7 linked regions of the Homo sapiens genome follow. The protein of the gene in region 7 interacts with the protein of the main gene of each other region in a pairwise test. Each region holds a gene or a part of one and is shown on either strand. Other genes may lie near its edges. The genes, in order: FCRL4, TNFSF8, DEXI, KIR3DL1, SLC10A1, MS4A3 and BMP10.

Evidence for each region.
Region 1: the proteins of BMP10 (region 7) and FCRL4 interact in binary tests that used the Homo sapiens proteins (3 or more experiments, as listed by UniProt).
Region 2: the proteins of BMP10 (region 7) and TNFSF8 interact in binary tests that used the Homo sapiens proteins (3 or more experiments, as listed by UniProt).
Region 3: the proteins of BMP10 (region 7) and DEXI interact in binary tests that used the Homo sapiens proteins (3 or more experiments, as listed by UniProt).
Region 4: the proteins of BMP10 (region 7) and KIR3DL1 interact in binary tests that used the Homo sapiens proteins (3 or more experiments, as listed by UniProt).
Region 5: the proteins of BMP10 (region 7) and SLC10A1 interact in binary tests that used the Homo sapiens proteins (3 or more experiments, as listed by UniProt).
Region 6: the proteins of BMP10 (region 7) and MS4A3 interact in binary tests that used the Homo sapiens proteins (3 or more experiments, as listed by UniProt).

The regions. Positions count from the first base shown.
Region 1 is NC_000001.11:157,580,762-157,585,391, forward strand, and holds part of FCRL4 (Fc receptor-like protein 4 precursor), read right to left. Parts: intron 884-4,630; coding exon 770-883; intron 1-769. UniProt on the Homo sapiens protein: May function as an inhibitor of the B-cell receptor signaling. May function in the B-cell-mediated immune response.
Region 2 is NC_000009.12:114,923,803-114,928,432, forward strand, and holds part of TNFSF8 (tumor necrosis factor ligand superfamily member 8), read right to left. Parts: intron 1-4,630.
Region 3 is NC_000016.10:10,935,909-10,940,538, forward strand, and holds part of DEXI (dexamethasone-induced protein), read right to left. Parts: intron 2,214-4,630; exon of another isoform or gene 725-2,213; intron 487-724; exon of another isoform or gene 1-486.
Region 4 is NC_000019.10:54,828,101-54,831,636, reverse strand, and holds the end of KIR3DL1 (killer cell immunoglobulin-like receptor 3DL1 isoform 1 precursor), read right to left. Parts: intron 2,277-3,536; coding exon 2,172-2,276; intron 1,710-2,171; coding exon 1,657-1,709; intron 1,539-1,656; coding exon 1,362-1,538; 3' UTR 859-1,361; downstream 1-858. UniProt on the Homo sapiens protein: Receptor on natural killer (NK) cells for HLA Bw4 allele. Inhibits the activity of NK cells thus preventing cell lysis.
Region 5 is NC_000014.9:69,779,423-69,784,052, forward strand, and holds part of SLC10A1 (hepatic sodium/bile acid cotransporter), read right to left. Parts: intron 1-4,630. UniProt on the Homo sapiens protein: As a major transporter of conjugated bile salts from plasma into the hepatocyte, it plays a key role in the enterohepatic circulation of bile salts necessary for the solubilization and absorption of dietary fat and fat-soluble vitamins.
Region 6 is NC_000011.10:60,062,467-60,067,096, reverse strand, and holds part of MS4A3 (membrane-spanning 4-domains subfamily A member 3), read right to left. Parts: intron 4,630-4,630; coding exon 4,492-4,629; intron 2,836-4,491; coding exon 2,779-2,835; intron 147-2,778; coding exon 1-146. UniProt on the Homo sapiens protein: Hematopoietic modulator for the G1-S cell cycle transition. Modulates the level of phosphorylation of cyclin-dependent kinase 2 (CDK2) through its direct binding to cyclin-dependent kinase inhibitor 3 (CDKN3/KAP).
Region 7 is NC_000002.12:68,860,662-68,865,291, forward strand, and holds the end of BMP10 (bone morphogenetic protein 10 preproprotein), read right to left. Parts: 3' UTR 248-4,630; downstream 1-247. UniProt on the Homo sapiens protein: Required for maintaining the proliferative activity of embryonic cardiomyocytes by preventing premature activation of the negative cell cycle regulator CDKN1C/p57KIP and maintaining the required expression levels of cardiogenic factors such as MEF2C and NKX2-5.

The sequences.
Region 1 (4,630 bases), on a different chromosome or scaffold from region 7:
GTTCAATGCAGGACACACAGAAGGTGCTGTCAGGAATCTGGAAAGTTGAATTGAATTAAGAGACAGAGTTGAAGGATGTGGGTAATTATTCTAGAGCTGAAAAAGGTTCTGCTCCTGTCTTCTACACCAGGTTTCTTGGCATCTAAAGCCAGCCTGAGGTGGGCTGAGGCAAGAAGTCTTTGGAAGCACGCAGCAAACAGTGCCTGGGACAGACCATCTCCAAGAGGCAGGGGAGGCTGACCTGAGGAGAGAGGGGCCACTGGAGCACCAGATGGCAGGCTCAAGCCTGCTCAGAAAAGCCCCTGAAAAGCCAGACCCAGAAAAGCCCCTGAGGGGACAGAAGGATAAAATTAGCCAGCTCTTATTCTCAATCATTTCTGCAGAGCCTTTAGTTCATTCTGAATCTCCATTTATGGTGGATTTAGGATAGGCTGAAGTATCTAACTGGCCAGTCTATATGAACCAAAGAAACTGCCTAAGTAAACTGTTCAGATAAAGTTTTTGGAACTTTACATTAAAAATTTCACTCTTCCTCCCCTTCACTGAGACTTAGCCAATCAGACTAGATATGAGCAGCTCTCATTCATGGCTTCTGTTTGCAAAACTGCCCCTTAAGGAAGGGACGGACGTGAGTGTGTGTGAACGCTGGGAGTGGAGACTTGGGAGTGGAGACTTGGGAGTGGTGGCCTGGTGGCCACTAAGGCTGTCTGCATGCTGAGTTCAGGGGAAGGAACAGGGCAGGAACTGTGGCAAAGAAAAGAGCACAAACCTGACTTCCTCCGACGCCAGCAGTGAAACAGCAGGGCCACAGCCAGGAGAAGAGCACTGAGCAGCCCTCCAGTGGCTCCCGCGGCGACAAGGCCATCTCTGTTGCCTGGGGTCTCTAAGGGGAAAGGACCTGTGTGAATCTCAGTGGAGAGGTTCAGGGTTTGGGATTGCCTTTTCCTCAGCTTGGTTGGGTAACGAGCCCTGGAAGAGAGAAAAATCTAAAGGACTAGGTCTCATAAAGACATCTTGGGCCAGGTTTTGGCCAGAAAAGCTCACATTGGGTGGGCCAGGGCCTGAGTGCAAGAGGAAACAGCAGCTCCCTCTACCTTCAGTGAATCATTTTAGAAACTAACAATTTAGGGGAAATCCTAATGTTGTATTCTGGTAAGCTGGCTTCCTGCAAATTGCCCCCAGACACCTGGAGAGATACTGTGGGATCATGGCTTGGCAGCACCTAACTTAGGAACAGCAAACTGCCTGAGAGAGAATGAAAATTGCACCACTGATTATGGCACCAGTTGAACCAACAGTAACTCTGAGATTGCTCCGCATTGGGACACCACGATGAAATGGCATCAGCCTCCTTCCTCATAGAAGCCTGTGCCTGTGTGCTCTGAAGGGCAGGAGAGAAAAAAACGGATGGAAAAGTACACATAATCAATAAATTGTTAGGGGCTTTTGATATTTCCATGGGGTCCGTTCTCCTATCCTTTCATCCACGGAAAAGGAGGTTTCATTCAATTTACTTATTTATACAACAAATATTTACTGAGGCTGCCCTGTGCTGGGCATTGACCTAACCCTTGAAGACCCAAGAGTGAACAAGACGTTAAAGTCCCGGCTCTTGAGTTTATAACCCAGGGAGGGGAGACAAGCCATAAACAAATAAATAAATTTATACCGTGCCCTGTAGTGATGCGCTAAAGAGCAAAAAGCATGACAGAGGGACAGAGAGTGGAGAGTGGGGCGTGGTACTTTCCCATATGTATTCTTGGTCCCCAGGTAAACCAAATTCAGACCTCAGACACAGGTACCACAGAATTGACAGAGAACATGCAGGTAGTAGAACAACAGCAACACTGATCATGATTTCCGTTTATTTTCATCTATGATTTTGGGCACAGAGGAGCCATTGGCTAGGAGTGGCTGGTGACATTTCTGATATTATCCTTCCCTCCTCAACAATATCAACAAACCTGCCCTTTGACCTATGAGTGGTTCCACTAATAAACAGTATTCAGTGGACAGCCAGCCCAGCTTCCCAGCCACAACAGCTGAAAGAGTACGGTGGAGAGCAGGACAGAAATCTAAGGACAGAGAGGCTTGGCCACTACATCCTGTATTGAATCTTTCCCCATTGCCTGCTGGGGCATCCGCCGGTGCAAAATCAGAATCAGCCACACCCAGGCCTAGGATTCTAGACTCAAAGGGCAGAAAGCAAGTTACTCTACCTTCCTGGTAACCCTATTTCCTAAAAGAAATGGCTACTTTGGGGAAAGTAATTGAAATTTTGTCTCAGTTAGAAAGGCACAGATTCTAAATCCAGGTTGTTGGATTAGAATCCCAGCTCCTCAACTTACTCACTGTGTGGGCAGGGAAAATTATTTAATCTCCCTTTGCCTCAGTTTCCTATTTACTGTTGTAAATGAGTTAATACATGTAAAGTGCTTTGAACAGTGCCTGCCACTTAAGTGTTACGTCTAGGGAAATACTAGTTCATATTTTGTGGTCCTGACACCATGCCCTAGACTCTCAGGAAATTCAGGCTGCTCTCTGATTAGCTTAGAGGACACCTCCATAGGTTAAGCCTGCTCCCACACAGCCCTACCCCAGACATCCTCAGTCCATGCTATGGATTGATTTGTGCCCTTCTCCCCCAGATTCATACGCTGAAGCTCTAACCCCAATGTGATGGTATTTGGAGACAGGGCCTTTGAGAGGTAATCAGATTTAGATGAAATCATGAGGGTGGGGCCCCAAAGATAGGATTAGTGCCCTTCTAAGAAGAAACACCAGAAAGGTTGTGCTGCTCTCTCTCTCTGCCATGTAAGGACACAGCAAGCAGGTAGCCTTCTGTAAGCCAGAAAGAGAGCCCTCACAAGAATCCAAATTATATTAGTGCACTAATCCCAGACTTCCAGCCTCCAGAACTATGAGGAAATAGATTTCTGTTTTTTAAGCTCCCCAGTCCCTGGTGTTTGGTTATGGCAGTTCAAGCTGCCTGAGACAGCCCACCTTAGCCCAGTGCATGAGGCTACTGCAGAGTTTCTCTCTTTGCTATATATTCTCCTATTTCTAAGCACGGGGATTTTGCATAAAGTCCATGATTAAAAAATATTTAGGAGGGAATCCCTATTCCAGCAAACATCACTGGATCCTTGACGTTTGTTTAATCTTTGAGATCATCTGTTTCCTTAACAGATGTTGACACCTGCTTTCCAGGGCTGTCATGAGAATAAAATGAAATGATACATGTGAAGTGGCCAGTTCACTGCCTGGATCAGGAGAAGCTGATCCATTCTGATGATCTTAACCCCCAAAAGGAAGAGGAATAATTTATACTTACCAACAGATTCACTGTTATCTCCTCAGAGATTATAATCTTTGAACTTCCTGAGGTAAACTTTTCAGAATAAGAGCCTTCCTGCAGAAGAAACACCCTCTACCATCAGTGTTACTCTGGATTTCAGGGCATTCAGGAGTCTTTCGAGGGAGCCCTTGGCAGCTTGCAGTTTTGCTAATCCCTTCTTCCTCTCCCCTAATCTGATTCTTGAAATGCCATTGAGCCCTGGAATTCAAGACCAGACTGGGCAACGTAGTGAGAACCTTTCTCTATGAAAAATAAATTAAAAAAAAAATAGCTGGCCATGGTGGCACATGCCTGTAGTCCCAGCTATTTGAGAGGCTGAGGTGGGAGGATCGCTTGAACCCAGAAGGTCAAGGCTGCAGTGAGCCAAGATCACGCCACTGAACTCCACTCTGGACAACAGAGAGAGACCCCATCTTAAAAAAAAAAAAAAGTCATTGAAATGACATTAGCTCAGTCTCAGTCCTTCTCTGCTGGGAATTACACCCAGTGATGTTCCCAGACTGAGATGCAGATTGCTGTGGTACTTAGTTCTGGGGAAACACCTCAGTCTCTTAACCTGGTGGGCCCTGCTTGATCATAAGACTTGCCTCAAGGGAGTTGAAGGGAAAGTTGAGCCGCATCTGGGCCATTCGCATAGCAACCCCTTGCTGGAGCCTCTGACTAAACTGTTCAGGTTTATGGCTTTGACCGTCAGAGCTGACTTTGTATAAACAGTGCAGCTGTTTTTGGGGAGCAGTCCCCAAAATTTAGAAGTTGGAAATATTATAAGGATCTGGAAAGAAAACTTTAAAAAAGTATCTGCTGAATAGATAGAATACTAACAGGTTATGTCCCAGAAATTGAGCAGGAAAATGTTTCAAGAAGGAGGGAGGGATCAATTGTATCAAAAGCTGGAGGTAGGTCAAATCAAATGGGAACAGTTTTCCACTGGCCTTAGAAATATGGAGATCATTAGTAATTTTGGTGGAGTGAGGCAAGCCTGGTGGTGATGGGTTTAAGAAAAAATCAGGGAGGTAAGGAGAGTGAATTGAGGAGTTTTATTGTATAGAAAAGCAGGGAAATCTAGCTTTCCAGTAACTTAATAAAAGCTAGATTCTTCCTTTCTTTCCTCTTTCCTTTCTTTCCTTTCCTTTCTTTCCTTTCTTTCCTTCCTTTCCTTCCTTTCCCTCTTTCTTTCTTTCTCTTTCCTCCTTTCCTTCCTTCCTTCTCTCTTTCTTTCTCTCTCTCTTTCTTTCTTTCTTTCTTTCTTTCTTTCTTTCTTTCTTTCTTTCT
Region 2 (4,630 bases), on a different chromosome or scaffold from region 7:
CCACTGCTCCTGGCCAGATTACTTGTTAATGAGAAAGAAAAAATGTTTTACAAAGGCGATAGTTGGTGGTCACCGCTTTAATCAAGTGACTAAACCTATAGTCAAAAAAAATGGGACAACCTGACATATGTCTCTAGCTGTGCTACAATAAGACGTATATAGAATTACCTATATACTATTCTTACTAAAAATGTTTCATCTGAGTATAACCATGAGTTAATACTAAGACAAATCCAGGCTATGAATGGATTTCTACAACAGAATTGGCCTGGACCCTTTAAAAAAAGGTCAATGTTATTTAAAACAAACACCAAAGGGCAAAGGAGATTTTAGCTCGGTGCTTCTCAAACTTTAATGTGCATACAGATCACCTGAGGAGCTTGTTAAAATGCAGATTCGGATTCAGGAGATCTGGGGTGAGCCCTGAGATTTTGAATTTCTAACAAGGCCCAGGACCACACTTTAAAAAGCAAAGTTCTAGATTAAAACAGATATTATCATAACACAGTATGTGACCCTAGATTGGTTCAAACAAACAAAAACACAACAGCCATACCTATAAGACATTTTTGAACAAGTAAAGAAATTAAAATATGGACCATATATTATTATTAGATGATATTATTGAATTAATATTAACTCTCTTGGCAATGATAATGGCATTGCAGTTAGTTAAGAGATGGGTACTGAAGTACATGTGAGTGAAAGGTCATGCTGCCTCCAGCTTACTTTCATATCCTTATATAGAGAGAGCAAAAATACAGCAAGATATTGACACAGCAATCTAGGTGCCAAGGTTATATTAGCATTTGCCATTCCACTTTTCTGTAGGTTTGAACATTTTCAAAATAAGACTTTGGGAATAAGCCATGACTGTTGTAATTCTTGGAAGCCTGGCTTTTGTTCTAGCTCTTCTACAAACTCCTCCTTCATCCCAAGCAGAAATGACTTCTCCTTTGCTCTGTGGCATTCTGTGCCATTCTGCCCGGAACCCAAGAACTTGGTGTTTGGGCTTCATCTGCTCAATTTAACAGAGTTCCCAGAAGACAGGGTCTTGCCCCTTCCACTGGGGACCTCCCCACATAACCTCACACAGGGCTCGCTCCTGGGAAGATTTACAGTGGATTTTTCTGGATTGCTAAATGGAATGAATGTCAGGTGGAGGGAGTACCTTGGGTAGTGGGAAGTGTCATGGGGCATTCCAAATAACTTCTTCTTGTGCCGAACTCCTATTAGCTCAACAGGGAAGGCACCATGTTCAAGAGGCTAAAGAAGAGGTGTAGAGTCAGCAAACAAGATGTGGGGTTTTATTGGGGGCTTACATACAGGGGAGAGAGTCCAGTGGCAGTGAGCTGAACAGGAAAACTGCTTTACGGACAGAAATGATCTCATGGCAGCAGGCTGGACAACATATTCACCTTATATACCGTCCAGTGGTGGTGGGTTGGGCAGGAAAACCACAACCACTTGCAAATAGCATGCAGTTTCTATAGCATGCTCACTTAACAGCCTCCCCTTAATGGCCTCCACCTGGCAGCCTTCATGTAACCAAAAACTCAGGCCTCAATCTCCTGTATGGCCCATGTTCCACGGGATGGGCTGGGGGCTCAGATGTTCCTCACAGACAAGGAATGAGTCTCCAGGTTGACCACTCCTGGACTCTCTAGCTTGGAACACCCATTCAGACGTGTCTGCCATATGTGGTTATTCTAAGGGTATGCTTCAGTTATTGCTATATCAGGTGTGTTTACCCTACACTTCTATTTTGTATCTGAGCTTAAAAATAAACCCAAAATACCACACCACCATCACCACCACCAATAATTACTCCCCTTAAACAGGTGCTCAGCTCCACTGTTGGTGTGGAGATAATTTAAAAAGAGTATTATTATTATTATTTTTAAAAAAAGAATTTTTTTTGCTTATAAAGGGAAAAGAGGCAGCTTCTTTCTTGAAAGCCTACCGATTGTGAACCCTATACTCCAACCTTTTGGAATGTAACCCTTTACATTCTCCCCTGGGGCTAGAGAAGCCCAGTCTCCTGGTTTACAAAACAAAGACGTCTCTAAGGTTGAGGGCTTCAGAGGCTTTTTGAAATGTAAACACCTACCTGTGGTGTTAACCTAGGAGTCTATCTCATTGTCTATCTCATTATGTATTCCCCTGTCTCTTGAGGAGATAAGAGAAGTTTTATTTTTTCTTCTTTTGCTTTGCTAGATTAATTGTGTGAAATTTCATCCTGACTTTGTAGTCTGTTGCAGGCTGCCTATTTGCATGTACAATTGTGCTTGCTCAACAGTAAATCATTTTTTTCTTTCCATATTGATGTAAAGAAGTGTCTGTTGGTAGGACTTTTAATTCCTCAGGGGTACACTAGTACAATCTCTTTGGAGACAGACTGACATTTATTGAAGCGAAAATGCACATTCCTCCTGGCTAACACGGTGAAACCCCGTCTCTACTAAAAATACAAAAAAATTAGCCAGGCGTGGTGGCGGGCACCTGTAGTTCCAGCTACTCGGGAGACTGAGGCAGGAGAATGGGGGGAATCCGGGAGGCGGAGCTTGCAGTGAGCAGAGATCGCGCCACTGCACTCCAGCCTGGGCGACAGAGCGAGACTGTCTCCAAAAAAAGAAAAAAAGAAAATGCACATTCCATTCCTATCACTAAAAATTTATTCCCCAGATATACTTGCAGACACGCACAGAGGGCACAAATTCTAGAGAAAACATTGATGTCTCTCACCAGGCACAGATAAATTATGAAGCATTTACACTTCGTACTATGCGACTCTTCAAAAGAATGAAATGAACTTCTATGTACTGACATGGAAGGATCTCTAAGATATACAGTGTGTTGTCAAGTGAATAAAGCAAGATGCAAAATTATGGGTTTATTATAATGACCCATGGGTTTATTATATATTATAATGTGTACTGTGTATTTGTAGATGCACAGATTTTTGGAAGGACACACAAGAATCTGTCAATGGTGGTTATCTCCGTGAAGAGGGATTAGTGGTTGGGTGGGGAAGGTGTGAAGATTTTTACTTTCTTTTCTCTTATTTGCTAGTTACTTTTCTTAAACCATGTAAGTATAGTATTTCCTAATATAAATATTATAAAATATATCAATATATTATAAAATATTAAATAACATAAAATATTATTTTATAATATAATATTTATAATATAAAATGTTTATTTTATAATATATTTATAACATAAAATGTTTATTTTATAATATATTTATAATATAAAATGTTTATTTTATAATATATTTATAATATAAAATGTTTATTTTATAATATAAAGTAATATTATTATATAAAATAGTATTTATTTTATAAATATGCTGGCTTAAATGTAAATAAAACAAAATACAACCACCACTGAGGCTTCAAAAATATCACAGGAAAGAAGTAAGTTCCATAGTAACTCAAAGACAGGGATTTTGTTGTTTTTTTTCAAGGCTTTAGAACAATGTCCTGCACACAGTAGATATTTAATAAATATTTGAGATAGAAACCTAAGTTCCTCCTTTGTCTCTCCCAAGGAGTTTAAGCTTGGAGTTATCTGATCTTCAAGTCAAACCTCAAGGCAAGCTTTGTTGATTTCCCTACACTTTCTCTGTCTTCTCTCCTCTGTCTCTTTGCTCATGCTGTTCCATTGGCTAGGAGTGCCTCTCCTCTGCTTTCCCTTCCCTGCCTGTTTGAAATTGTTCACATTTCTCAAGCCAACCTGAAACTAATCCCCAGGAGTTTTTCTTAAACCTGTCTGGAAAAATATATTCTCTCCTTAACTTGTGGTGTCATGGTATCCCTTTAATCACTCATTATATGTTATGACTTAGCTGTTTTAAATTTTGTCTATACACGTGCCTTGGGATAAGAATTGTGTGACTTCTTGTGCCAGTAAAACCATTCTTATGGTTCTCCACCCCTGTTCCCATCACATACAGAGTGCTAATTGACCATTAACTCATTCCATTTTTAATAATGGTGATGTGAGTCTAAGCTCCTTGGCTTTCTCCCATTGATTTCTTTCCTAGAGTTTCTTTTAGAGTCTCTTCACTTGTCTGAGTTCTTCCTGTTTTCAAGTCAGTCTACATTCCATCTTCCTATAGGAAACCCTTCCTGATAACTCAAGTTAATGGGAAAATGATGCTTTTTTTTTTCTTGTTAGGTCTTACAACAGTTAAGGTCTGAGGAATTTATTGAAAATGATATGTGCAATGCATTTGACACTTTATATACCACGGCTACTATTAACATGGCAAGCCTTAATTTTAAGGAAGCAACTGATATTTCCTGGTCTAAGAAATCACAGCACACCGCACTGTACAATCAGATTGCACAGTGAATCTTTTCATATCCAAACATGAGGGGTAAGTCAAGGAAGTGGATGCACAAGAAGATAAAGCTCCCAAGAGAAGAGTGGGTGCAATGTTTCTTAGTGCTTCTGTGGCTGTCTGTATTGGCAAAGGGGATGCTGCTTGCATCAAGCAATCAAGCAGTATTGGCTCTACCACTTTCTCAGGGTGACGTAGTTCAAGCCCTGTTCCCTCTCTGCTCCTCATTTTCCACATTTACAAAAATGAGGCAGAAAGATCTGCTCTGGTTCTTTTATAG
Region 3 (4,630 bases), on a different chromosome or scaffold from region 7:
TTAATGCAAAAGCTGATCTGGGATTGCATCTTGGACCTCAACTCTCCCCTTTTTATTGTTAAGGGACACTACTGGGACAATTTTTTTTTTTTTTCGTTTTGAGACAGGGTCTCGCTCAGTCACCCAGGCTGGAGTGCAGTGGTGGAATAATAACTCACTGCAGCCTTGAACTCCCGGACTCAAGCAATCCTCCTGCCTGAGCCTTCCGAGTAACTGGGACTATGGGCGTGTACCACAACACCTCGCTATTTTTTTTTTCCTACTTTTTGTAGAGACGGGGTCTCACTATGTTGCCCAGGCTGGTTTCAAACTCAAGTGATCCTTCCACCTCAGCCTCTATAAAATTTGAATAAAGTTGTAGATGAGATTGGTCATAGGATTGTATAGTGTATCAATATTAGATTTGCTGATTTTGACAACCCTACTGTGGTTATGCAAATTTGTCCTTGTTCTAAGGAAATAAATACTGAATTATTTAGGAGTAAAGGTGCATAATGAACCCATTTTCAAATGCTTATGAAAATTACACATATACACATGTGTGCATATACACAGGCATGCATATACAAACAGAGGGAAGAGCATGCACGTGTACATGAGCAAAGTGCTAACTGGTGCAACTGGTGAGTTTGGGCGGGCATTGTTTGTGCTCTTGCAACTTTTCTGTAAGTGTGAAATTACTTCATAACAGAGGTTTTTGTTTGTTTGTTTGTTTTTAATTCAGGAAAAAGTTGGAAGAGTGCGTATGAAATAGGCCTGGCAGAAACTATGAGCTGGTGTTCCAAGGTCGGGGATGGGGAGCCCTCACTGGAGGCACCCCTCAAACCCTCAGTGCTGTGGCCAGGGAACCGGGCTGGCAGTCTTAGTTGGCTTTGTTCCCTCGGCCTCCACTTCCCCATTCTGTGCCTCCATTTATTTGTGAGACAGGGATAAAGAGGTCTGCCACTTTTATTGTGATCTTAGGTTTCCCAAAAGCCGAGTATGCTTTCAGAAGTTCTGGGAGGAAAGCTAGCAGATAAACCAGAAATATGAATATCCAAATTGAGAGAAGCCCTCACTTTCTTAGTTCGGCAAAACAGACACATGAGCTGTAAGTGGGGCAGACCCTGCCTGTTTCTTGGCTGAAATCTCCAGTTTGTATAATTCAGGGCTAAGAGAGCAGGACTCTTGACATCTCACTGTCTTGAGACACATACTGGGGTTTTCTCCTGTCTGAAGACGCAGCTGGCACCAATGTACCCTATGGCCAAGGACCTTCTGGGTGAGCCTCATGTCAGGAGCAGAGCTGGAGAGGTGGCCAGGCCTGGGGGTATACTTGCCTCCCTGTGTCACCATTGTCTGTCTCTTGCTTAGATGACAGCCACAGCTTCCTGGCCTGGTTTCCTGCATCCGCCCTGACCCCTGGCTGTGGGATCTCCCATAACTCAAATCTGACTGTGTCCCTGTGGAAGGTTTGGGTTTCTGACCTGGGCAGCTCTATGTCCGGCACAGGGGTTCTGCTGATAGCACAGGCCACAGATTGGCAAGGAGGGACCAGGTTAGGAAGGAGCAGCTGTGGTTCCTAGTTGGGAGATAACTGAAGCCTAGGAAATCCTGGAATAAGATAGACCAATGCATCGATAACCCTCAGCTCCAAATCTGAGCTGCACCAGGACAAGCTGACTCTGGTGGCAACGTTCTCCAGTCTCTGCATTTTCAGCTCGCTGTGTGCCAAGAGAGGGCTGGCAGGTACCAGCAGCTTTCACTTTCATTAGGAACCGGGACGAATAATCCAACTGAGCTGCCTCTGCACCAGAACTGCTGGGACGTGAAGACTCTCCCTGGCTCCCAGGCCAGCCACTGCAGCCCTTTCTCCTGGGAAGGAGGGAGCTCCCGATTCCCCATTCCCTGCTCCTGGGCAACAATTAACACTCTAGGAAAACCACAGAGCCGGCTATCCAGGGTTCTGGTGCCCTGGGGACCACAGGGCAGCAAGAAAGTTCTCCTAAGGGTCCTGGGGCTGGGAAGGCAGAGTGGGAAGTCTCCCCCAGCTAGGCTAGACCTGGACCTCCCTGGCACTCAGGCAGCCTGTCCTCTTCTGCTCACAGGATATAAATATTCATGCATGAGTATAGGTGCAGGTTTGTACATTTGCAAGGGCATGGGTATAACACGCTTTCCATTGTATCCGACTATGAATATGAGTGGTTAATATTAATACATCTCTTACTATATACAAGGAGATCTAAGTGCTTTATGTATATCTCACCTAATCCTCACAACAAGGGAGATTTTCATTATTTCCATCTTCTAGAAGAGGAAACCAAAGTACAGGGAGGTTAAGCAGCATGCCCAAGGTCACAGCTACCCTGGGATGTGAACCCAGGGCCCTGGCTCTTAACCATGACCCTAATACTGCCTCCTCAAGTAGGTGCTCAGCAAATGTTTGAGGAACTGAATTATGTGGGTCCACACATAAGAGAAAAAAAAAAAAAAGAGGGAGCAAAAGTAGGTGCACCTGTTCATCTTGAGATTCATCCTGGGCCCCACTGTGTGACATGCTCCACGCCCTTAGTCACTGTTTCCTGGATTGGCGTGTGGGGAACACATGTGACCACATGAGAATGGCTGAGAAAGAGCAGGACTGACTACCGGCGTTCCCCTGCTTATGGAAAGGGGCCTGGAGATGAGGCTCGGTCAGATCATCTTGAGGTCTTTCCTGGCGGCTTCCCTGCTGCTAGCTACCCCTCTCATACCCTGGGGTTCTGAGCTTCCTCGGCACTTGGGGGCAAGGCCTCCTTGGCTTGGATTTGAGGGTGGGGAGGAGGGAAGGCTGTGCATGGCTTCCACCACTTCTCCAGGCCTCCCCACTTCCCAGGGTCAGGCCCTGACACCCCGAGAGCTTTGCAAGGGTGTCCCTGAGAGATATTTCCTGGTGTTTCTGCTTAAACAGCGTTTGCTGCAAAATATGTCGAAGCATTTGGGATTCAGTTTTTAGTTCAGAATATGCCAATGTTTTCATTTGGAAGGGGAAGTGTTTCTGTTGATGTGGTAAAGAGATAAAATAAGACGTTCCTCACCAAGTTACACTGCTTCAAAGTCAAATGCTTGGCTTGGAGACAGGGATTTATCTTGGGATCGCAGGCCCTTAGCACACGGCCTGGCAGAAGAGCAGGCAGGGTCAAAGTCTGTTGAATGAGTGAGTGCATATGCAAAGGGCCTAGACACAGGAGTGCGATACAATCAATGCTCAGTACAGATTTTGAATGGATTCCATAGGTTCTACTTTTGAGAGTTGTTCTCAGTCTGTTCATGTTTCTCTATCTTCACTAAACTCCCCTCATCCAAGCCTCTGTCACCTCTGGCCTGGACAACTAACAGCATCTGAGGTGGTGGCCCTGCTTCCCCTCTTACCCCTCAGCTCATTCTGTCCACAATTGCCAGAGTCATTTTTGCAAAATGGGAATGGGATTGTGTCATCTCCTGCCTAGAACCTTCCAATGGCTTTCCACTGCTCTTGGCTATGGCCTTCCAGGTCCTCCATGGTATGGCTCCCACCCACCTCACTGACCTTTCCTGGGGCTGTTCTCCAGCCACATGGGCCTCCTTTTGGTTGCGGAAAAACCAACTCTCTCTCACCTGAAGGTCTTGGCACCACTGATTCCCTCAGCCTGGACTGCTTTTCTCCAGATCCTTCTATCAAATTAAGGCTCAGCTCAAAAGCATCATCTCCTTAGAGAGGCTTTCTCTGACCCCTCAGCTAAAGCAGCCCACCATCTCTATCCTACCGTTTCACTTCTGTTTCACTCCATGTCTACACCTACAGAGACCGTCTACTAGAGGCCAGGCACAGTTTTAAGTGTTGAGGACATGGCAGTGAACACAACAGGGAAGCTCATGTCCTTCTTGCCTGCCTTCATAGTTCCGAAAAAATCTGATTCTCTTGTTTGGGTTCCTACTAGTCTTCCTCACCAAGTGCCAAAGGGCCAAGGCTTGGTCTGTCTTGTTCACTGTGTTCAATCACCAGGCACTGTACTGAACCAACAAGCATTCATTCTGTAAAAGAACGGACGGATGGATGGCAGGCAGGCAGGCAGGCTGGGGAGGTGTGCAGAGCACCTGGCACACACTCCCCCTGGCACTTGGTTCTCGCTAAGATGTTACTGAGCTCAACTGAAGCTTTTTCTTCAAAGAAATCTCACTGTGAACCCATTAGGAGAGCCCTCTGCCGCCAGCTATGCTGTCAGTAGGTCCTACCCCACCCTGTACCACCATCTGCAACAGACTCAATGTTTGTGTCTCCTCAAACTTCATATGTTGAAACTCTGATCCCAAATGATGGTATTGCGGGGTGCGGCCTTAGGGAGGTGATTAGGTCACGAAGGCAGAGCCTTCATGGGTGGGATTAATGCCCTTATAAGAACAGTAAGAGATAAATGTTTAAGTCCCCCAGCCTATGGTGTTCTGTTATAGCAGACTGAACTAAGACACCCTCTGCCTGTGGTTGTCTTGGCAAAGCCAGGTAATGCAGGAGAGGGGTGGACTCAGCCTGCTTGCGGTGAATGGCATTAGTGTCCATTTTCCTAAAGGAGCCCTTGCCCACCATATCTCAGCATCCCCTCTTCATTGCCACTTAGACCCTGTGCCCAGT
Region 4 (3,536 bases), on a different chromosome or scaffold from region 7:
TTAGAGTTGACAAAGGCTGCCGTGTGGTTTAAGGTGGCATAGAATGTCTTCTTAATAAATAATATTAAACCAAAGGGTTACACGTAGGAAAAAATAAATCTAAACTTATTCTCACACTATAAAAACACTTCTTACTTTTTATCTAGTTATTGTACATTTTTTATGATTTATATTTAAAATTGAGAAATAAAAGTCATATACGGTCATCCTTTACTATTCGTGGGTGATTGGTTTCAGGATCTCCACTCAGGTACCAAAATCTGCAGATGCTCAAGCCTCTTACATAAAATGACACAGCATTTGGATATAACCCATGCACATCCTCCTGTATACATGAAATCATCTCTTGATTACTTATAATTCCTGATACAGCCTACACACTGCCTCATTTGTGTCCATTCAACATAGTTTTGCATTTTGAAACTTTGTGGACATTTTCTCTGAATATTTTTGATTTACACTTGGTTCAATAAACACCTGTAAACCCCACAGATATGGAGGAGCGACTGTATATTTATAGTATGAAATATGATGTGTTGATATGTGTCCCCGTGGAGATGAGACTAGCAAGGCTTATGACTCTACAAATGTTTCATCGTGGAATGACTCTGCCAGCTTTCCAGGTTGCAGAGAGTAAGAATATCACTTGTTCATGTGATTCACGATCCTTGGAACCTCCTATGTGCTGCATCTTTGGATGGAAATTGGAGTCCCAGAGACAAATGAGGCTCCACCCTGCTTCCAGAAGCTCAGAGTCCAGGGGTGAGAACCCAGCGGAGAACAGATGGGGTTATGTGGACATGGTAATGATAACAGCGGTTTCTTTCAGCGAATACAGTGTCACATTACCTGAAGCAATGAGGGCAGACATGTTTATTTGAAGAGGAGACAGCTACATTGAAATCACAAAAAATTTTATAAGTTTCACTGCTGACAGAAGGCTGGAAAATAGTCCGAAGAAAGGTGAAACAGCATGAGGGAAGGTGGAACAGCACGTGGGTAAGTGCCACGTCAAGAGGGAGCCTCTTGTATGTTTGGAATTGTGAGTTCCTCAGTGTGATTGCAGCCTCAAGTAGACTAGGAAGTAAGCCAGTTAGGTTGGAGAGGTGGGCAGGGGTCAAGTGAAATGGAGAACTGTGGGCTAAGCAAAGGAGTGTGTTTTCTTTCCAGCAGGCAGTGGGGACCTAGACATTTGTAAGCAAGAGAGAGGCACCAGATTTGTGGCGTGAGGAGGAGCGATGCCCTAAGATGAAGACTCACGCCTTCAGATTCCAGCTGCTGGTACATGGGAGCTGGCAACTCGGTTTTGAGACAGGGCTGTTGTCTCCCTAGAAGACGTCCTCAAGGCCTGACTGTGGTGCTCATGGGCAGGAGACAACTTTGGATCTGGGCTTAGCATTTGGAAGTTCCGTGTACAAGATGGTATCTGTAGGGGGTGTCTTGGGCCTCTGAGAAGGGCGAGTGATTTTTCTCTGTGTGAAAACGCAGTGATCCAACTGTGCGTATGTCACCTCCTCAGGGTCTTGTTCATCAGAGTCCTGGAGAGAGGGAAATGCTGAGTGAGGGAGGGAAATGCTGAGTGAGGGAGGGTGCTCACGTTTTCCAGGACTGTTTGGGAATAACACTAGCCACGAGGCTGGGCCGAGGAGCACCTACCTCGCTGTTGGCTGTTCTGTTCCCTGCAGGCTCTTGGTCCATTACAGCAGCATCTGTAGGAGACGGAAGTCAACAAAAGAGCTCGGAGGGCACTTCTGGGTCCTCATTTCATAAGCAGATACCAACAAACAGGGGGAGGCCATAGGTGCCTGAGGTCCCTCAGTTGCCAACAGCAGACTCAGACATTCTATCTCTCTGAGCTCAAGGACCCATCCCATGAATAGCTCTGAGTTCCCATCCCATTGATTCTGTCTCCCACTTTCTGCCTGTCATGGAACCTTCTCCTGGATGTGAGTGGCTGCAGGGGACATGAGGATACAGTTCAGAATCAGGCAACGGTCTGTGAGCTGAAGGCAGGGGCAGGGAGTCTGGTGCTCTCTCTAGAAAGTCCTGCCTCTGTGGCTCCTGTCTTGGGCCAGGGACCATCCTGCCAGTGAGGAACACACAGCTGTGTGCTCCCATCCTGCTTCCCCACATGGCCCTGAGCTCTCTGGCCTGTGCCCCGTGAGACTTACTTTTTTTGTTGGAGCACCAGAGATGAAGGAGAAAGAAGAGGAGGAGGATGAAGAGGATGATGACCACTGAGGTCCCAATCAGAATGTGCAGGTGTCTGGGGTTACCTGGAAGAAGAGGAGACACCAGTAAGAAGCTAATCATAGCAGTTTCTCTATATGAATTGTCTTGCATTTCTTGATTGACAGGTAACCACTTACAGCATCTCTTTCGGACAAGCACCCAGATGGCGGGAGATCTAGCTTCCTCCTGCTTTCTCAGTTATAGCTCTCATAGTAACCATGGAACGTGCTGAGGATACAACTACTTTAGTTGAGATGTTTGACCCCTTCAAACCTCACATTGAAATTTAACCCCCAGTGTGGGAGGTTGGGCCTCTTGGGAGGTGTTTGGGTCATGGAGGTGGATCCATCATGAACAGATCAATGCTGTCCCAAGGAGACGGGGTTAGCAAGTTCCCTCTCTATTAGTTCCTGGAGAGCTGGTTGTTAAAAAGAGCTTGGAAGCTCCATTGCTCCCCCTCCCCCTTGCTCCCTCTCTTGCCGTGTGATCTCTGTGGTCTCTGCACAGACAGACCCTCCTTCCCTTCTGCCAGAGTGGGAGCGGCCTGAGGCCATCATAAGAAATAGATGCTGGTGCCATGCTTCCAGTACAGCCTGCAGAACGGTGAGGCAAACCAATCTCTTCTTTAGAAGTTACCCAGGCTCAAGTGTTCCTTTAGAGCAACAAAAATGGACTAAGACAGCAAAGTCCTGAGATCAGGAGGATTGTCCCAGAACAGCCTGGGCTGTCTTCCTGTTCTTCCTGGAGGAGGACGTCATGCAGTGCTTTAGCTGAGTGCTTCCTGTGGCTCCAGGGTACAAAACCCAGGCTGGGCTGCTTTCTGGCTTCCCCCAGCTACACTGCAAATGGGGTGACTCCACATGTCTCGAGCAGCTTTTCTGAGCCTTGGGGAACTGGCTCACATTGAAATGTAGGCTTCTGTTGTCACTCGCTGCTTATCTGTTAGTAATGAACCTGCCTATGTAACGTATTCTCTGTGTGTTCTGTCTCCCTGGAGTGACGGTGAGTGATAGGAATTGGCATAGGCCCAGGTGCAGTCCAGGAGGTGTTTAGAGTCTTCTCTGGGAAGACTGGACTGGGATTGATACACAGCGAATGTGCTTTAGGATTTCTACATCCACGGCATTCTTGAGTTAAACAACTTGCATTCTCCAAGAAAAGGAAACAAAAGTGAAATCAATATAAAAAAAGCGAAGTAGAATTCTCTTATGTCAAACAGCCAGAAAATAGTGTTGAAGCCCGTGTGAAATGTGCTACTCTTTGTGATCTCGGGAGACACATGTTAGGCTGCTGTTCTACCTCAG
Region 5 (4,630 bases), on a different chromosome or scaffold from region 7:
GAAGCACAGGTAGAAATTGGAGGTGGGAAACATTGCAATAAAACACTGGAAGTGGAAAGGAATATGAAAGACCTTTATCTTCTTTTTGGATTCCTTTCTTTAAATTTTTTTAAAATTATTAACATTAGAGACAGGGTCTTACTATGTTGCCCAGGCTGGTCTTACTCCTGGACTCTTAGCGGTCCTCCTGCCTTGGCCTTCCAAAGTGCTGGGATTACAGGTGTGAGCCACTGCACCCAGCCCATCTTTTTAGATTTCGTATCAGTAGCTAGGAAGCTTGGGGACAGCTGATTAACACTTTGATTATTACAAACTCAGCCAAGCACAGTTACTGCTTTTGACACATCTCTGGATAGCAGACTTTCAGTGAAGTGTTACGTGAGGCTATTCAGGACTCCTGCAAAATGGATATTATTTAAAAGTCAAGTATTTTTGGAACTTATATACACATTCCTACAATACTGTCATTGTTCCACATACTTTGAAACTCATGAGAACTTGTCATACATATTTGTCTCAAATACCTTGATTACAGATAGGGATTTTATCCATTTTAGGATCAATTCTGGAAATTGCCAAGAGTCATTTGAAACAAAGCTGGTAAACAAGGTGGATGATCAAGCCCGGAAATACGGTTTTAAACCCAAAATGATGTCTAATAATAAGGGGACAAACCTACTTTCTTGAGTGACCTGCAAATTGAATATGAAGGAAGTTCCCAAAAGAACTTTCAGAAATATCTTGGGTGATAACAACATCATTGGAAACTATGCAGGTCTACTCTGAATGAAATTATAGGGTTTTTCATTGTGCAACATAGGATGCAACCTTTCAAAGTGCATGTGCACTCCATGCACTTTGTACTTTCCAGTGTGCATTTTAGAGAATTGCGTCCTCCAAAATGATAAACAGGTATGTGTAAATTTAAGACTGTCCCTTTTATCTCCTGAGTAAAGAAATACTTAACTTTTCTCAAACTTACCATGTTATTTTGTAATAGTTACATGTGTTGGTTCATTTTTTGGTTCATTCACATGTGTTGCATTTTATATTTCCTAGTAACATTTTAAAAAAGTAAAATATGTATAGCAAAGTTTGCCATTTTAATCACTTTTGAGTGTACAGTTCAGTGGCATTAAGTACATTCATAATGTCCTAACGACATTTTAACATTTATATTGCTCAAATTTCAGCTGCACAGCTTTGTGTTTCTGTTTTTAATACTTGTTGCAACTGATATGATCATATAAAACATCACCTATACCAATTAGTGGTCCTATCCCAGCATAGGAAGGACTTTCACACATCTCTTGAATAACCATGTGCTTCAAGTTTTATTAAAAGACTTATTAGCTAATGAACTTCTCAGTTTACCTTTGCATTTTTAGTTGATTTCCCCTTTTAGATTTCTGTCTTTCGAATTTGTCCTTTACCCAACAGTCAAATAATTTTTAATCTCTATCAAGAGTGGAGTGGATAATGTAGGAGACATTGAGTTACAGGAATTGTCCACGAATCCAGAAGCCCTCTTCTTCTGTATAGGCATTCACTCTTATTCTCTCACTCATGTTCTCTGACTCTTGGGGACTGCACAGTTGTGGTTATGAGCACATAATTTGATATGATCCTGGTGGGAAAGCTGCCTCTGCTAGTCTCCAGGTGTGTAAGCTCTGGGGAGTCACTCAACCTGAGTGAGGTTGACGGCATAGGACCTGGCATATAAGAACCGCTCACTAAACTGTAACTCCTGTTATTACTCAAAGGGGAGGAATTAACATTCTAGAGGTTCCTGTCACTCTCACTGCTGCCATCTCTGGAAATTTATCCTGTCTACAACCCCTGTCTCCTGCTGAGACAAGTGGCCCCGGGTAGTTGCTTCTCCATAGGCTACCACATTTTGTACCACCTGACTTCATTGCCCTGCTCACAACTGGGATGAGTGCTCATTCATGGGCAGCCAATCCATTGGCTTACACATGAGATGACATGTCCACAGTCTACCCACAAAGGTGGCCCGCACAGGCTGGTGAGTGGTAGAAATAATCAGATTCTCTCATTTAGGAAGTTTGCAGGATTACAGAGAGGGAAGCAATAGCAGGGACAAGTGTCAGAACAGAGGTCTGGGAGCAATAGCCACAAGTTGGCAGAAGTTGTAAGACAAAGGAGAGTTAGGGGTCAGTTCAGCAGTAGCAGCAGGTGTGGGAAATGCATGAGTAGAGTGTTGAGTCAATGAAATGGTGGGATCCTTATTAAAGAGTGGTGGATGGCTTATGGTGAAAGTGGCTCCTGGACCATGTCATTCTCAGATTCATCACCCTTTTAGCCACATAGCCTTTGGATAAACCCTTGCATGGGTAAGTTAAAAATTACTTGAATTGCCTTTTAAAATGAGCATGCCTGAAATTGTATCTTGGTATATCTAAATGTGACCTTCCACCAGCGAATGCAACTGGTTGAACCCGGTGTGAGCAGATACCTGCTGCCAGAGCTAGTTATTGAAAGTTGGGTTATTTTGATTTGCAAGGTCCAAGGAGGGTTATGTGTGCGTAAGAGGCTAGGACAATCATTTGTTCGTTTTCCAGTTTGGCACTCACTATATTATTTATGGGACAGGGTGACGAAGGATGAGCATAGTCCTCGAAGAGCCATAGAAGCAAGGAAACCTTAGCTTTTGCAGCTTGACCCACATGTTAGTCTCTGCATCCTCACAGGAGTGATTCCAGTTTTGGAATATAGGAAGATCAGTGTAGCTGTTGACTTTGTGGTGGTTTAACCCTGGAGGTTTAGCCAGGGGCAAAATGGGTCCAGGGCATGCCTGGGTTTTTTAGATTACCTTTTATGTAGTCCCTTATTACTAGTCTCTGTTTTTCCAGCCAAGGTATTTCTTAGCCCTTTTAATGTTCTCTGGCTTCATTTTGACTTCATTTCGTCTGTGGCATTGAGTAGTGAATGTGCAACACAACAGGAACAGACTGGTTGAAATAATCCTGGCTCTGCCAAGTAACTTTTCCGGGCCTCGGTTACTCTATCTGCAAATTGGGAATAAGGCAGGAGACTGAACTTCATCTTAAAGGCTTCTCCAGCTTTAAGATCTGAGATTCTCGGCAAGGTGTGGTGGCTCACGCCTGTAATCCCAGCACTTCGGGAGGCCAAGGCGGGGAGATCACAAGGTCGGGAGATCGGGACCATCCTGGCTAACACGGTGAAACCCCGTCTTTACTAAAAAATACAAAAAATTATCCGGGTATGGTGGCGGGCGCCTGTAGTCCCAGCTACTCAGGAGGCTGAGGCAGGAGAATGGTGTGAACTCGGGAGGTGGAGCTTGCAGTGAGCCGAGCTCGCGCCACTGCACTCCAACCTGGGCGACAGAGTGAGACTCCGTCTCGAAAAAAAAAAAAAAAAAGGGTCTGAGATTCTGCTTTTTGCAACCTCAGAGAAACACTTTTAAAGCTACTCTGAGGTAGAAAAGAGACATGTTCTCACATCAGTTGTCATTAGCACTATGACTTGGTATTCTGTTTCCCAGTTTTCCCACCTATAAAATGGAGGAGGGCAGAGTAGCATTAAATGATAGCAGTGGTCACTTCACATTTTAATATTCTTTATATTTTATATGCATTTCTTTAAGATCGTTTATGGGTGTATAGGATTTTTTAAAAAAGCAATCTTATGCACCCCACAAACTATCTTAAAAAAATGAAATGATGCACACAAACATGTTTCTCTGTGTATGTTGTTTTTCTGCTGGTGTGTGGAAGAGCAGCAGACAGGACTTGCCCTTCATTCCTTTATTTATTCTCAGGCATTAGCTATGGGGGCACTGTGATAGGTGCTGTGGATTCAGTGTTAATTAAGACAGCCTTATGGTCTTGCTTCTTGATAAATGAGTGGGGAATAAAAATGAACAGATGTTCTTAATGCAGTGTAATAATTGCTACAGGGGTTAGCTGGAGTGTTGGGTGTTATGGGAGTGAATAGGACAAGCATCTTACTCAGGCTTAGGAGGTTAAGGAAGGCTTCCTGGGGGAGGCGCTATTTGTGTTGAGACTTAAAGGATGAGTGGGAGTGATCCAGTGAAAGATGGTGAGTGGGGTGAGAATTGGGAAGAAGAGTGTTCCAGGTGAAGAGAAGGGCACGTGCAAAGAGAAAAGAGCTGAGACTGGTGAGGTCAGTTGAAACCAAATCAAGAAGTGCCACATTAAGGAGTTTAAACTATCCTAGGGGGAAGGAGTCAATGAGAGGCTTTAAGCAGTGGAGTGACATGATAGAGTTTGTACTTCACATCTTCACCCTCAGGTTAGAACTGGGTGAGGAGGTTGGATGAGAAGGCCATTTGAGTTGTCTAGTGAGAGGTAAGGATAGAGAGGAATGAATGGATTCCAGCAACAGAAGGTGGAATCGACAGTCATTGATTAGATGGGTGTGAGTGGTGAGGGAGAAGGGAACATTGAGAATGACTTCCAGTTTCTGGTTGGGGCAACTGGGCACACACACAGTGCCACCGACTGAGATAACCACATGGGGAGGAGATGACTTTAACATATATTGAGTTTTAAATGTCTGAGGTATATTCAGATAGAAAGACCTGGTAGATAATAAATGGATTCTGGAGTGAGGATAGAGTTGACAT
Region 6 (4,630 bases), on a different chromosome or scaffold from region 7:
ATGTAATTGCATAGGTCCGGTGACTCTGATGAAGAGTGACAACTCCTTAATGACTGGATATTAACTGCTATATTTAGTGAGAGAAAAGCAGTCCCCACTAGTGCAATTGTAGCACTGGCAATGTTCATTCCAAAACTGTTCTGTATCTAAAAAAGAATAAGAATTTTCAATTAATATATGCAGCACGTACTTCATTCCTTTGGCAACAATTCATTGAAACAAACATTGATTGAATATTGTTTACACACCCACTGATATCCTAGATGCGAGGCTAACATCAATGACCAAAGAAAGATTTCTGTCCCCCACCCTCCATGGAGCTTATATTCTAGCAATAAAAACAAAGAAAAAAGTAAACATACTATAGGTAAATTACATAATATTTTTGAAAGTGATTAAGTACTAGGGGCTAACAGAATGGGATAAGGAGAATCTGGGAATCCAAAGAGAGGAGTGGGGGTTCATGATATTAAATAGAAATGACACTGGGGAGAGGCATGAAAGAGCTGTGGGTGCCAGCCAGGAGGATATCTGGGGGAATATCCTTGAAATTAGGGAAACACTCAAAATCCTGAGGCCAGAATCTTCTGGGGCAGCAAAGGGGTCAAGGGCGTTGGAGGCACGTAGTCAATACTAGGAAATGAAGAAGAAGGAAAGTTAACAGAGAGCCAAATCATGTGGGGCTCTGCAGATCATGAAAAGGAACTTGTTTCTAACTCTAAGAAAAATACAAAGCCAATGAAGGATTTGGAGCAAATAAATGATATACTTGGCTTTATGGTTTCAAGGGATCACTGTTTCTAGCAAGGCAAAGAGAAGTTCAACGATAAAAGCTAGAAGCCCAATTAGGAGAGACAAGGTGGATTGGATGAAATGTCATCAATAGAAAGATAAGAAAAGGTCAAAACTGGATATAATAATAGCTTGAAAGTAGAGCCAACATTATTTGCTGATAAATAGGATTCAGGATTGTGAAAGAAAGAAGACTCTTGGTTATTCTAAGGTGTTTGGTCTGGGAATCTGGAAGGATGACATTCCCATCAGCTGACATGAGGAGAAGGTTTGAGGAAGAAGACTGGGAGTTGAGCTTTGGATCTTTACATGCCAGTCTGATGATCAGGAGAGACACCTGGGCTGGAAATACTTATTTCAGGGTTGTGGGCATACAGATATTACTTGAAGTCATAAGAATGTGTGAGATCACAGAAGAAGTACGTATAGATTGAGAAGAGCAGGTGGCAAAGAATTCAGCTCTGGGGCACCAGAACATTAAAAGGTCAGAGACAAGGAGAGGAACCAGGAAAGGAGACTGAGATGGAGAAAGCAAAAGATGGGAGGAAAACCAGCCAAGCAATGTATGCTGGAAGCCAAGTGAGGAAATTCCTGGAAGGAGGAGTGGGCGACTAACTATGCTAAATGCTACTCATAGCTTAAGTTAGATGAGGAACAAGAGTTGACCGTTGTTTTAGCAGGGTGGAAGTTTTCAGTGATCTTAAAGACAGCAGTTACAGAAGGATAGTAGGGAATAAAATAAAGTCTTATTGAAGTGGGTTTGATTCAAACCGGTAGATGGAAATCAGAGAAAGAACATGATGATTCCTTTGAAGGAGTTTAGCTACAGAAGGAAAATACAAATTGTGCCTGTCCCTAGCAGGGAGAAATAATGTCAAGGTTTTCTTGTTTTGTTTTGTTTTGTTTTGTTTTTAAGTTGAGAACAGTAACTGGATGTTTACATGCTGATTAGAGATGGGGCAAGGTAACTCACGCCTGTAACCCCAGCCTTTTGGGAGGCTGAGGCAGGAGGACTGCTTGAGCCCAAGATTTTGAGACCAGCCTGGGCAACATGGCAAGATCCTGTCTCTACAAAAAAAAAAAAAAAAAAGACAAAAATTAGCCAGGGATGGTGGCACACACCTGTAGTCCCAGCTATGTGAGAGGCTGAGGTGGGAGGATTGCATGAGCCCTGGAAGGTGGAGGCTGTAGTGAGCTGTGACCACACCACTGCACTCCCATCTGGGTGACAGAGTGAGACTCGAAAAATATATATATAGCAGAGAGACAAAAATTAAAGTGATGCACTTGTGTGGGGAAAAAAAGAATGGAATCTTATACTCAAGTAGGGAGATCAGCTTTAAAGAAAATCACAAAATTTTCCTATGGTAAGAGGCTAGAAGAAAAAAATACATTGGTACAGATCTAGTCCATTAGTAGTGGAGGTCTGAAAATTCCCTTCTAATGGCTTCAGTTTTCTCAGAAGAGACAGAAAAATCATCAGCAGAGAGTAAGGATGACAGAAGTGGGATTGGTGTTTGAGGATACAATAAAATGGTAAAATAGCTATCCATGGAGGAGGGAAAGTGAATGAATGGAGTAGGAAAGTGGAGTATCAGTGGCTACGTGACTCACTAAGAACACATCATAGAGACTTAGCAGTTGTTTAGAATAGAAGTTTGGACTTTCAGTTGTCAAACTAGTTAGTGGTGGGAGTTCTTACTTCCAAATAATTAGAATTGGTCAAACTTGACAACACATAAAAATCAAGAAGACTTTTTCTAAGCTTCAAGTTCACCAATATTAAGAGCAAGCATCCCAGGAATGCATCCTCACAATGTATGTGATCTGCTGACCTACCATCTGAACACGTTAAGAAAACTAATATTTTGTGCATTAAATGATACTCAGTGTCTCAGTTGTATTCATGGACACTTACTGTCCTACTGTTTATGAATAATATATTTCTACTCCTCTGATCATAGAAAAAGAGGAAGTGCTACTTACCCATGTTCTTGTGGGTTTTATCCCTGCTACAACAGACAAGGTTCCTGAACTACAGAACTGTTTGAAAATAGGAAGGAAAACAGATAAAGGAATATTAAGTCTCAACCATTTTCTTCTTGGTCCTCCCTCAATTAGCAGATATCCAGCAATAGTCATACAAACCTCCCTTTTAAATTCACATCCTAGGACACAGAATTGTACTTGATGCTGCTCACTTTATTTATTTATTTATTTATTTATTTATTTATTTAGTCTTTCCATGCAATTAGTTTTATTCATTTTATTTTTTAAATTTTTTTTATTTCCATACGTTATTGGGGAACAGGTGGTGTTTGGTTACATGGATAAGTTCTTTAGTGGTAATTTGTGAGATTTTGGTGCACCCATCACCCAAACAGTATACACTGCACACAATTTGTAGCCTTTTATCCCTCACCTCCTTCCCACCTTTCCCCCTGAGTCCCCAAAGTCCATTGTGTCATTCTTATGCCTTTGCATCCTCATAGCTTAGCTCCCGCTTATAAGTGAGAACATATGATGTTTGATTTTCCACTCCTGAGTTACTTCACTTAGGATAATGGCTTATGCAAGGATTTAATGACGAAGAAGCCAAAAACAAATGCAATAAAATCAAAGATAAATAGCTGGGACCTAATTAAACTAAGGAGCTTTTGCACGGCAAAAGGAACAGTCAGCAGAGTAAACAGACAACCCATAGAGTGGGAGAAAATCTTCACAATCTATACATCTAACAAAGGACTAATATCCAGAATCTGCAATGAACCCAAACAAATCACCAAGAAATAAACAAACAATCCCATCAAAAAATGGGCTAAGGACATGAATAGACAATTCTCAAAAGAAGATATACAAATGGCCAACAAACATATCATTCACTTTTTAAAAATGAACCATCAGGGAAGTAATAAATAATCAAAACTGAATGAATACATTTTAAAATCACCCCTATTTCTTCTGATTGAATGTTGACCCAGATAATGGAAATGATTCTTCTGACTTTCAGACAGTAATCAGCAGACAAATTTCTTAACTCTCAAGCCAGGACTCTCTGCTGTACCACAAGGCAATTCATCAATACCCATTTTTCATTCAATTTTTTAAGTATCTATAAATGTAACATATAGTTATATATAAGATAATTTTTAGGACTTCATTTGTACTTGGCAAATGTGGTTTCTCTTAATCAGAAAGAGATTTTTGGCCTGGCATCAGGGCTCATGCCTGGCAATTCCAGCATTTTGGGAGGCCAAGCTGGGAGGACCACTTGTGGTCAGGAGTTCGAGACCATCCTGGAAAACATGGTGAATCCCTGTCTCTACTAAAAATACAAAAACAAAAATTAGGTGGGCATGGTGGTGCATGCCTGTAATCCCAGCCACTCAGGAGACTGAGGCAAGAGAATCACTTGAACTGGGGAGGCAGAGGGTTTCAGTGGGCAGAGATCATGCCACTGCACTCCAGCCTGGATGGCAGATCGAGACTTTGTCTCAAAAAATAAATTAATTAAGTAATTAATTAAATTAAAAAATAAAAAAGAGTTTATCGTCTCTAATTGTTTATATCAAGAATTGCAAATCAAAACCACAGCATGCAACCTTCCAATAACCTACAAACAATATTTTTGTCATCAAACACATCTCCAGCAGTGGTATCTAAGAAATAACATATAGCCAGGGGAGTACGAATACTCACAAACACAGCACCCCAAATCGGGTAGCCTGTGTAGAAGGTGAAGAAAAAGAAGTGCTTTTGGAAGTGGTATGGGTATTGCAAGGAACCCAGAAAGACACCCAAAGCCAGAATCATTGCTGCATTCAGGATCTGGATGGCC
Region 7 (4,630 bases):
GAATGAATTTCCTTCGTGAAAAAGCAGCAAGGTCTGTCTGTTGGCCAGGACTGTTACCTCTAAACTGCCTCCTTTGGTATTCAAAGAAGAAATATTTCCCAGCTACTGACAAAAGGGAGCCAATTGTATTTTCTGTGAATGCCTGTGGCATTAATGGGAATTACACAAAGTCATATAAAGTGGGAGAACCATGGAGCTACAAAATCCCACTCCCTACTGAGGTCAGTTACAAGCCAAAAACAACTTATGGTTTCTTCAGACCATTCTTTATTAATATAGCAATTAGTTTTATTCCATCGGGATATGTTATCAAGTAGAAACATGAAAAAGTGGGGAGTGTGCAAAATTAAATACCTTACCTCAAGGAAAAATAAGCTGCAAATAATTATCACCAAAATAATTTTTTTATTTTACTTAAAAAGACTCTGAAGGTACACATTTGGTTCATGAACACAGGGTAAAATATTTATTTCCATCTTCATTTTAGTCTAGTGATAACTATACAAATGTGGACATGGATAATGAACAGGTTTTACCCCAGAACATGACCGTGCATCAGCTGATTCGGTGTGTCTGTGGTGTTCGCTGATTTCCAATGTCCATGAATGCTCAGTAGGCGGGCGCTGGCACATTGGCCGCCCCACCACTATCAAGCCAGGTGCTCACAAAACCAGTGCCCATGTGTGATAAAAACATGCTGATCACAACAAACAGTTATTCCATGATGGGTTTTTAACTTATGACAAATATTTCACATGCAGAAACACCCCTGTGTACTTCTCTTCCATAGTCACATCTACCTTCCATTTAATGTAGGAAATCAACTGTTCCTGTTTGGGGGCAAGAAAATGCACAGAGTCATACCAGCATTTCCTCTTGCACCATATGTGAGCTTGCAGAACTGCAAAGGGTTGAGAATGACCCACAGTGACTCTGAAAAGATCTACAACCTTAAAAAGGGCAACATCCCTTCTGTGTTCTAGGCAAGTTAAAAAGGTTTTGCCAGAACACTGCTAGGCTTCATAATCTGTTGATGAATCAAGTAAGAAGAATACATAAAATTCTCTTATATGAAAATATCTTTTACTTGAAGAATATAAATCATAACAAATACTGAAACATTTAGTAACAGTTCTTAAAAAAAAAAGGTTTTTGTCATTAATTCCCCGGACCAAAATTTACACATCAGGAAAGAATTCGGCACTTTGGGGCTGACTCTTTTGGAAATCACTAAGCTAACATTTTTGACATTTACAAAGTAATTGGTCCAATTACAAATGAATTTGACCAATCACATCTCTGAATTTCTGGGTCAGTGACGGCAACAGGTGAATTCAGAGGGGAAGTACCAGATTTGGGGGATGAAAAGATTCATTTAAATAGCATCTCCGTTTACTGAGTAGCAATCACATTCTCTCACAGCCTGACAATATTTGCTTCTCATGATAAACTGACAACATCACTTTATGAAACTGCATGACAATGTATTGGTTAAATATTTCCTGGAACATCTACACTTCAGTTAAAACTGTACTATTTACAAATCAGAAAATATACTACAAAGCATGCTTGTAGGCACAGCATGCCTGCAAGACACAAATATACAAAATTATGGCAAGCTATGGCAAGATTCCTTAAACCAATAGAATATTCTGATGCAAAAAGAGAGAGATGGAAATACAGGCCATATATTATATGTGAGCCATACTCTGAAGCCCAGAAGACTCTCTATCCAAAAGGGAATCACAGACATAAAAATAAAATATTTGGTATTCTACAATATTTTACAAAAATAAATATATCAATCAATAAATAGTGGGAAGCCTAGAAACTCTTACATGAATATTTTGGCTGTGGGCTGCCCAAGTCCCTCTGCTATAATTCTCCTCAAGAGTTGTTTAGCTATATCAACTTCGGTGATGATAATTCTGCAATAAAAGGGGGAAAAAAACTGGCATGGGACCCAGAAGAAGGTCTATGACCAGAGAAACATTAGTAAGATTCTACCTTTTTAAGGATCTGACAATATTCTGGCTTCCTGTCAATGCAGGAGTTGAAAGTGACACCGGTGTGCTGCCGGGGTTCCGGTGGGAGCTGGGAGAACTCCTCTACGGGCTGTGTCTTTTCACTTTCTGACAAAAAGCCAAAAAAATACAACTAGCAACATTTGAATAACAATATGTTGCTCTCTGCACTCCCTTTCCACAGGGAAGCAGAAAATCATAGAAATGCAGGTTTACATCTGGATGGGCAGAAAGAAACAACTGGGCTATGCAGCCTGATCGCCAACAGCCTATATTTTCATATCTCTTTAACAGAAGAGTGACTATAAGTGCTCGAGACAAGATTTCTCCAGAAGCCCGGAGCCAGCAGCGCACACAGTGGAAAGCAGGGCTGGCACATCCTTAACATTCTAGTATCAGGGTGCTAATGTCAGCGGTGTGCTAATGTCAGTGGGATACTAAATGTCAGCGGTGTGCCAGCACCAGTGCACAGCTCCCAAGAGCTGACTTAGGTTTTAGAAGTTTTGCAAGCCAGTTGACATCACCTTGGCAGCTCAAGATAGACCATGTAGGAGCGTTTGCAGCATTGAAATCCACAAATCAGGGCTTTTTCTCCCCCTGGATTGCTGGTTGTAAGGGTTTTACCAGCACACCACTGTCATATGTATTAGACATAAAGAAAATTTGCTTAATTTTTATCTAACCAGGACTATCCTGGTCAGCTGAGGTTTTACTGTGTATGTATTACAGTGTCCTTTAGAAAGGATAAGAAGTACCTTGGAGTATGTGAGTATACATTGTGTACCATGGAGTATGAAGGATGCACCACGTTCCACTGAGGGTATTAAGCGTGGTTATTCAAAGCCAGCTATACATCACACACACATACACACATCATGTTATATGGAGGCTGTTCCACAAATAGTGATTCTGAGTTGCATGGCTTTCTCAAAGCATCAATCACTGTATACCCACTGACGGTCAAAACACCACTCTTCCATGAGCAATGAATTCCCCAGGATTCACCCAGCAGACAACAGATCTAGCGAGCTGAGGTTCAAATTGGGCCTTCTTCAAAATAGTTTTCCTTGCCTCTATTGTCTAGTGCAGTTTGAGTTTATAACCTTAAGAGATTTGTAAAAGGGGACTGATTGTTTTCCAGGGTAAAAAAAAGAAAAAAGTGTCAGACTTCTTAAGGAAGCATTCCTTAAGATGAGTAGGGGTGAATGGGGGATGACGTACTGGAAACCACATTCCTGGTTCTAACAGGAACCATCCATGTTCCCTGCCTGGAGATGCTGGAACAGTTTGGAAACTGCTCTGCTCTGCTCTGGTTCCTCCTGCACAAAGCCCAGAATATGCTTGCCAGGTAGAGGGAAATGGTTAGGGGTTAAGACTGGAGGCTGCCACCTGCCAGGAAAACCCACCGGACCCTTCCTGTGCAGAACACTTCCTCACCACTTTCAGTCCTGGCCAGTTGCAAAATGGGAAGATGGTAAGATGAGAAGATGGGAAAGTTACTGGGTTTCTACCATGAAACAATCATGATTTCAAAATTCAGGCTTGGCTTTTGAGTCATTTGCTTGTGTGTCTATTCATAAATTCGTTTATTTAAATCCATTCATTTGGACTCTGGTTTTCTTTTTCTTATACTTACTTATTCTGGTTTTCTTTTCTCTTATATCTAAGTATTCTTCATGAACAAAACATTTGATAAAGGATATTATTAAAATAAAATCAAATTAAATATCACGGGAAGATTTAGAAATTAGAACACTAACTCCTTTCACCCTGAGAGCAAAGGCACTTAGGTGTCCCTTTCCAGTTCACAGCATGCATCATGAAGGCCAGGGAAGAGCAGGGACACAGGGATGGGAGGAAGGTGAGAGGCACTAGGGCCAAGAAGAAAGAGGGAAGGAAGAAGATGGAGCAGAGGAAAGCAGGGGTGCTGAGACAAGGGAACAGTGTTAACAGGTGAAGAAAGATATTAACATCCTTTCTTCCAACAGACAGACCCCTTCTGATTTTCCTCCTCTTAGTCTTTGATACTTCTATTTTGTCCAAAAGATTTAATTCTTTAAACAGAACCACTTTTGGTTTTACAGACACATCTGAGGATAGCCTCTGAGGATAACATCAATATCCTCTTCCCTTTCTCCCTTTCTCCCCTTCAAGTACCCTCCCAACCCCTCTACTCTCTGCAGCAGCAATGGCCAGTACTCATGGCCTTGCTTTCCTATTGTCTCAGGAACAGATTTCATGCTGGTTTCTTCTGTTTTCCTGCCTTGACCAGGAGTTGCCCTCTGGAGCACATTGGTCCTCCATGGGTTCATTTTTTCCTGTTGTACCTCTAAGACCTCTTAAGTCCATTTGGTTTCTGTATCAATTAACCCTTCCCTTCAAGCATCCTTTGCCAGGCCCCTCCTCTCTGAGCAACTACAGAAACTCAACTGACAAAAGCTACACTTACATTTCCAGAGTATTTAGGAAGGGTAATACTTCCTAGGATGATTAAAACCCTGATGTCAATTATCTTGACTTAAATCCTACTCAGAGAAGAGGTAACAGAGAACATACCATTGGCCTTTAATATGCATACATTTGAGTGAGTCATGCATGTAGATGAG